2 separate regions of the Homo sapiens genome follow, and region 1 is linked to region 2. Evidence: fine-mapped expression QTL. A gene starts in region 2. The other region holds a variant in brackets. All regions are shown on one strand. Distances are from middle to middle.

Region 1 (2,922 bases), 37 kb before region 2:
GGTCAGTGGACATATTCCTTTATATCGAAATATAGCTACTAAGAGTATGTAAAAGTAACCCTTATATGTATATTACTATTGTCTAGGTAAGGCAAAGATGTTACCTAAAAAGTTGAAAATAGAAAAGGAGTGCCACTTTTGAGGCACAAAGGTAGTCATGATGCAGTGAAAGGACCTCTGGACTAGAAGGCAGTAGGTCTTCGGTGTGAATCCCAGCTCTGCCACAACTCATTATCTTAGTTTTCAGGGATGAATCAACCTTGTCTGCATCATGGAAGATTCTTCAAAACAGTTTTACCAAAATTAGTGTTTGTGAGAGACAGGGAACACAGCTATTACTTACAAAGCACCTAGTATAGGCTAGTATTCATTATAGCACTATTACAGCTAAAATTCCAATAGGCTGAAAAGCCTTAATCAGAGGCAAGCCTAATCATAGTGCTTACACTAAGCTATAATAAGTACATTCTATGTACTGTCTCCTTACAATAATCCCTAGAATTAGATGTTATCCCATTTTACAGATAGGGAAACTGAAGCCATAAGCTATCAAGTCCAATGCAGCTAATAAGTGGCAGAACAGGAATTCAAGCCCACAAAGCTCTTTATTGCTTCCCCAATGACATTGACTTTATCCACTCTAATTAGTGGACTTAAAAACAGCAAATAAGTGAAATACTTAACAATATGAGTCACGTTTTATATTTCATTTGCATTGTCCCTCAAAGCACTATTAGTGGAGAAGCATGATCACAAAATTCCTGACACTCTTAACAAATTTATCAACTTGCGAGCTAGAAAATGTTTCTAAAAAATGAATGTACCAACTAATTAGATAATTATATAAAATACTTTGAAGTCCTAAGTCACGCCTGTAATCCAGCACTTTGAGAGGCTGAGGCAGGCAGATCACTTGAGGCCATGAGTTCAAGACCAGCCTGGCCAACATGGCAAAACCCTGTCTCTACTAAAAATACAGGGGAAAAAAAATTAGGTGGGCATGGTGGCACATGTTTGTAGTCCCAGCTACTCAGGAGGCTAAGGCAGAAGAATCGCTTGAACCTGGGAAGCAGAGGTTGCAGTGAGCCGAGATTGTACCACTGCACTCCAGACTGGGTGACAGAGTGAGACTCTGTCTCAAAAAAAAAAAAAAAAAAAAAAAA[G/AG]AAGCAGTACCTGCCTGAAGACCGTACACGGCTAAGTCACTTAAACTGAATAATAACCCCCAGCCACTAGCCTACCTATAGGGCTGGGAATCTGTGTCACTGATAACCACAATCAGCCTATGGGATGTCTAACCTCCAAACTCATATCCTGGCAAAGCGTAGAGCCCTGGACCTCAGGTTGAGTGCCCTCTTAGTGTTCTGGGCCAGGCTTTAGGAACAGGGAATGTATGATCCACAGGGCAGAGGTATGTGTCGGCTTTGTTCAAAAATCTATTCCTAGTACCTAAACAGTGCCTGGCACACAGTGGCCACTCGGTAAATATTTACTGAATAGAATGACAGCAGTTCACTGCTGTTCTGCATAATGTCCCATTATCCCCATCAAAAACATAGTATTTTACCTATAAGCCATTAAAAAAATCCACATGATTAGAATAATACAAAGTATATCATGATAATGAAGTTTGCTGCAACATCAAATAAGCCTGTTTTTAAAAAGAGAACTCAAGACATGTATATTCTATCACTGCTCTGATTCACTGAGCTCAGCTAATATTTGACAGGAAGTAGATATATAGATATGTATTTATTTTGCAGTAATAAATTATACACCTTGGCTTTGACCTTCTTTCCACATAGCAATTAACTTCTTGAATGTAATAGCCAGAGGTTCAACCAAGCCACCAAACGGAGGATCCGTCACCATAATGATTCCTTCGCCTTTATCTTCCTGTAAAAATGCTCTGCATACTTCAAGGGCAGTCTGGAACAAATAAAAATTCATTTCTAAATTAGGACTAGAGAGAGGCACTTCATCCTATTTGGAGGAGAATGCATTAGACTCAGTCTCTCTCTTAATACTGGAAACTTTACCAAGTCATCTTGCCACCGCAGCATTCCTCAGTGACATTCTGAAGCCTCTCTTTGCTCCTATGAGATTTTATCTTTGGGTTCTTTGATAAGCAGGTTTTTAAAATTGCAAATTCAAACACCATCACTATCAGAAGACTACACATTTCAAATGGTTAAATTAAAAGGCTAAATTTAATGTCCTAAAAGAAACTCATTACCCATGAAAACTATCTAAAATGTTAAATTCAATTTAACAAACAGAAGCCAGGATGGTGCTAAGCACTGGGCACACAAAGACGAAGAAAACATTGTTTTCCTATCTGGTTTGTCCAATGCCATGAGTTCAGTTTAATAACAGCTACAAATTAGCAGTTAAACATGCATATGTTTTTGAGTATCAGGCAGACATATTTGAACATGCACTGTAAGTAAATAAAAAATGAAAGTTCACAAACGACAAAGCGCATCTGGTCCATGAAACCATGCTATTAACACATTTTCCCAAAGGTTAATTTAAGCTTTTTTAGTAATTGCAAAGTAAACATTAACAGGGACATTTAATGGTTTTTGCTATAAGTGAAGTTATTAAGAGATACCATATAACAGTATCTCCACTCAACTGACTTGCAAGTAGCTTTCAAGTACAGTCCCCTCAGTATCCCTGAGGGATTGGTTCCAGGACCCCTGCATATACCAAAATCTGCAGGTGCTAGAGTCCCTGATATAAAATGTTGTAGTATTGCACATAACCTATGCACATCCTCCTATATAGTTTAAATAATCTCTAGGTTACTTATAATACCTAATACAACGTAAATGATACATAAATAGTTCTTAGACTCTATGGTTTAGGGAATAATGACAAGAAAAAAGTGTACATGCTCAGTACAGTCACCACCATCCTTTT
Region 2 (2,922 bases):
CTGCCCTTAAATAAAATTTGTTTGAGCTTTAGGCACAATTTATCATAATTAAATCCATCTCTTTGGTTGGTTGTTTTTTGTTTTGTTAGGGTTTTTTGTTTTGTTTTCTTGAGACAGGGTCTCCCTCTGTCGCCCAGGCTGAAGCGCACTGGCACAATCATGGCTCACTGAGATCCTGCTTCCTAGCCTCAAGCGATTCTCCCGCCTCAGCATCCCGAGTAGCTGGGACTACAGTTGCGTGTCCCCAGCTGTTTTTCTTTTTTTGTAGACGGAGTGTCATCATTTTTGCCCGGGCTAGTCTCAAACTCCTGGGCTCAAGCGATCAGCCCGCCTCGGCCCCCCAAGTGCTGGAACTACAGGTGCACGCCACCACGCCGGCTTCTCTGTGTTTAATGAATGTTTCTTTTCTCTCTGTTACAACATTCCGGCAGTGACTACTTATAAATAATTTTTGAAAACCGGTCTCTTCAGAAAGAAAATGCTATTGTCGGTACAGTTGCTGTCTACGTTGTGAATATTACAAACCTGAGACTAAAACAAGGAAGGGACTCAGAGAATTGAGGACTTTGACATCTCTTGCGCGGTTACCCTTGCAGTGAAAACCTGAGCTTTGAGCTGGAAACGCCCACTTTCTGTAAGTTAGAGAAAAACTGAGTCTAGTTCGCAGGCAAGAATTACACTGTTTTTCTCCCTAATTTTTTATTTTTGAAGGGAGAGCAAATCAACAAATGAAATCCCCAAGTACTTGTCAACGAGAACTATTCAATACCATGCATTCTTCTCTTTGCCTACTTTTCTGCCCCTTCCCCCCAAAAGAGATGAAATAGTCCTGGAGCCAAAACCACAAGAGTGGAGACTTGCTCTGAATGTTTCTCAAGTAAGTTGAAAAACACCGCGTTCCGAGGAAGGAGTATTTTCTAGGCAGCACACTGGTGAGGGAAAGAGGCGGGTAAAAATACAGGAGCCCCAAAAGCCACTTCCAAGCCAACTCACACCCTCAGCGCCCGGCAGTTAGGCTGAGCCCAGACTCTGACCCACCGTGAGGGCACAGCGGGGCGGGGACGGCAGGATCCAAAGGAAGCACCACCTCCATTCCCGAGCTTCCCCGGCACCCTGCGCTGCCCTCTGCCTCCACGGCTTCAAACCCATTCCTGGAGGCCGCCATCTTCCCGCCGCCGTCCCGAAAGCCTCAGTACGAAACAAGAATGCTGAGAAAGAGCGCCCCCGCGACCCAAAGCGACCCACAGCGCCCCCAGGCGCTTAGGAGGAGCTTGGGCGGGGGCTGCCGCGGCGGAGGCCACGCCCCGAAACGCAGTCCCCGCCCACCTGGGGGCTGCACCTAAGCGGCCCCTAGCGGTGGGGCTCGCAGGTCACTTGCGGGACCTGTGCCATGAGCTCAGCGCATGAAGCACCCTCCTTTCTTAAGAATATAGCCAGGAAGTGAGATGATTCGAACAAAGACTTGGTTGTATTGTAGGTCCAAAAGGCAGCATTACCACCTCTGCCAAATAGCTGAAATGGCTGCAGCAGCTGTGATTTAAGGATCATTCTTTGTTTTTCAAAGTCACAGTCACTGCATCATCCTCTGTAACTTTTGGACAATGCTGAAAGTTGCACATCATAGTTGCATACTCATTGACATTTATACATAAGAAAGAAAGAAAACCGTCCTGATTTGCAGATGACATGATTGTCCACATTTTAAAAATCCGAAAGAATCTATCAGGAAAACACCTCCGGTTTAAACTGAGTTCAGCAAGGTTGCAGGATATGAGATAAACACACAAACATCAACTGGATTTCTAAATACTAGCAATGATCACAAGAACACTAAAAAATAGAATACCACTTACAATCACTCAAATAAATGAAATAGGTGTAAATCTAACGAAATATGTACAGAGCTTTATGTATGCTAAAAACTCCAAAATGCTTGATTAAAAAAAATCAAGGCTGAGTGCAGTGGCTCACACCTGTAATCCCAGCACTTTGGGGGGCCAAGGAGGGAGGATTGCTTGAATCCAGGAGTTCGAAACCAGCCCGGGCAACAAAGCGAGACGACATCTCTAAAATAAATAAGCAATTTTTAAAGTTTTTTAAAAATCAAAGAATAGCCGGGCACGGTGGCTCACGCCTATAATCCCAGAATTTTGGGAGGCCAAGGCAGGTGGATCACAAGGTCAGGAGATCGAGACCATCCTGGCTAACACCGTGAAACCCCGTCTCTACTAAAAATACTAAAAATACAAAAACAAAAAAATTAGCCAGGCGTGGTGGCGGGCACCTGTAGTCCCAGCTACTCGGGAGGCTGAGGCAGGAGAATGGCGTGAACCCGGAAGGCGGAGCTTGCAGTGAGCCGAGATTGTGCCACTGCACTCCAGCCTGGGTGACAGAGTGAGACTCCGTCTTAAAAAAAAAAAAAAAAAATCAAAGAATAAACAAATGCAGAAACATACTGCATTCATAAATCAGAAGACTCAACATAGTAAAGATATCAGTTCTCCCCAGGTTTAATGCTTATACAGGTGTAGCACAATTGCTATGAAAATCCCAGCCAGATTCTTTTTGTACATTTAGACAATATTCTGAAATTTATATGGAAAGGCAAGGGAACTAAAATAGCTAAAACAATTTTGGAAAAAGAATAATGAAGTGGGAGGAATCAGCCTACTCAATTTCAAGTCTTATAGTGCAGTAATCAAGACGCAGCCACATGTCTATGGTTGTAGACGAAATAGTCTCTTATGTTATTTAAAGAACCATTGGGGCATGTGCCTAGTTAACTTCACACATTGAGTGCTATGGTTTATTACTGTAAAAACATGGCTGTTTTTCTTTCACATTTCATGTAATGGTTTTACTCAAATTCTCCATCTGCACCAGTAGCATCTGTATCTTTGATGTACCAGTGTCCCCTTTTTC

Which allele goes with the higher level. Positions count from the first base shown, and alleles are read on the strand shown. Sizes are in standard deviations (SD) of each study's normalised expression.
For the expression in prefrontal cortex of the gene that starts at base 1,201 in region 2, allele G in region 1 goes with a higher level than allele AG (small effect, 0.35 SD a copy in BrainSeq).

Evidence for each region. PIP is the estimated chance that this variant, and not a neighbour inherited with it, causes the effect.
Region 1: its variant is the best candidate, but not a certain one, in a credible set for the expression of ZCCHC4 in prefrontal cortex (BrainSeq, PIP 0.85).

What each region holds. Positions count from the first base shown.
Region 1 is chr4:25,348,496-25,351,417 of GRCh38, reverse strand. ZCCHC4 (zinc finger CCHC-type containing 4) reads right to left here. Exons shown (of 13, transcript NM_024936.3): 7 at 1,776-1,926. Among named protein-coding and RNA genes, the nearest start is that of ANAPC4, 27 kb to the left of the region's middle. The variant G/AG (reference allele first, on the strand shown) is at 1,164.
Region 2 is chr4:25,311,053-25,313,974 of GRCh38, reverse strand. ZCCHC4 (zinc finger CCHC-type containing 4) reads right to left here and starts at 1,201. Exons shown (of 13, transcript NM_024936.3): 1 at 1,039-1,201. The coding sequence starts at 1,165. RefSeq lists enhancers at 1,083-1,142, 671-1,547 and silencers at 1,141-1,345, 1,353-1,422.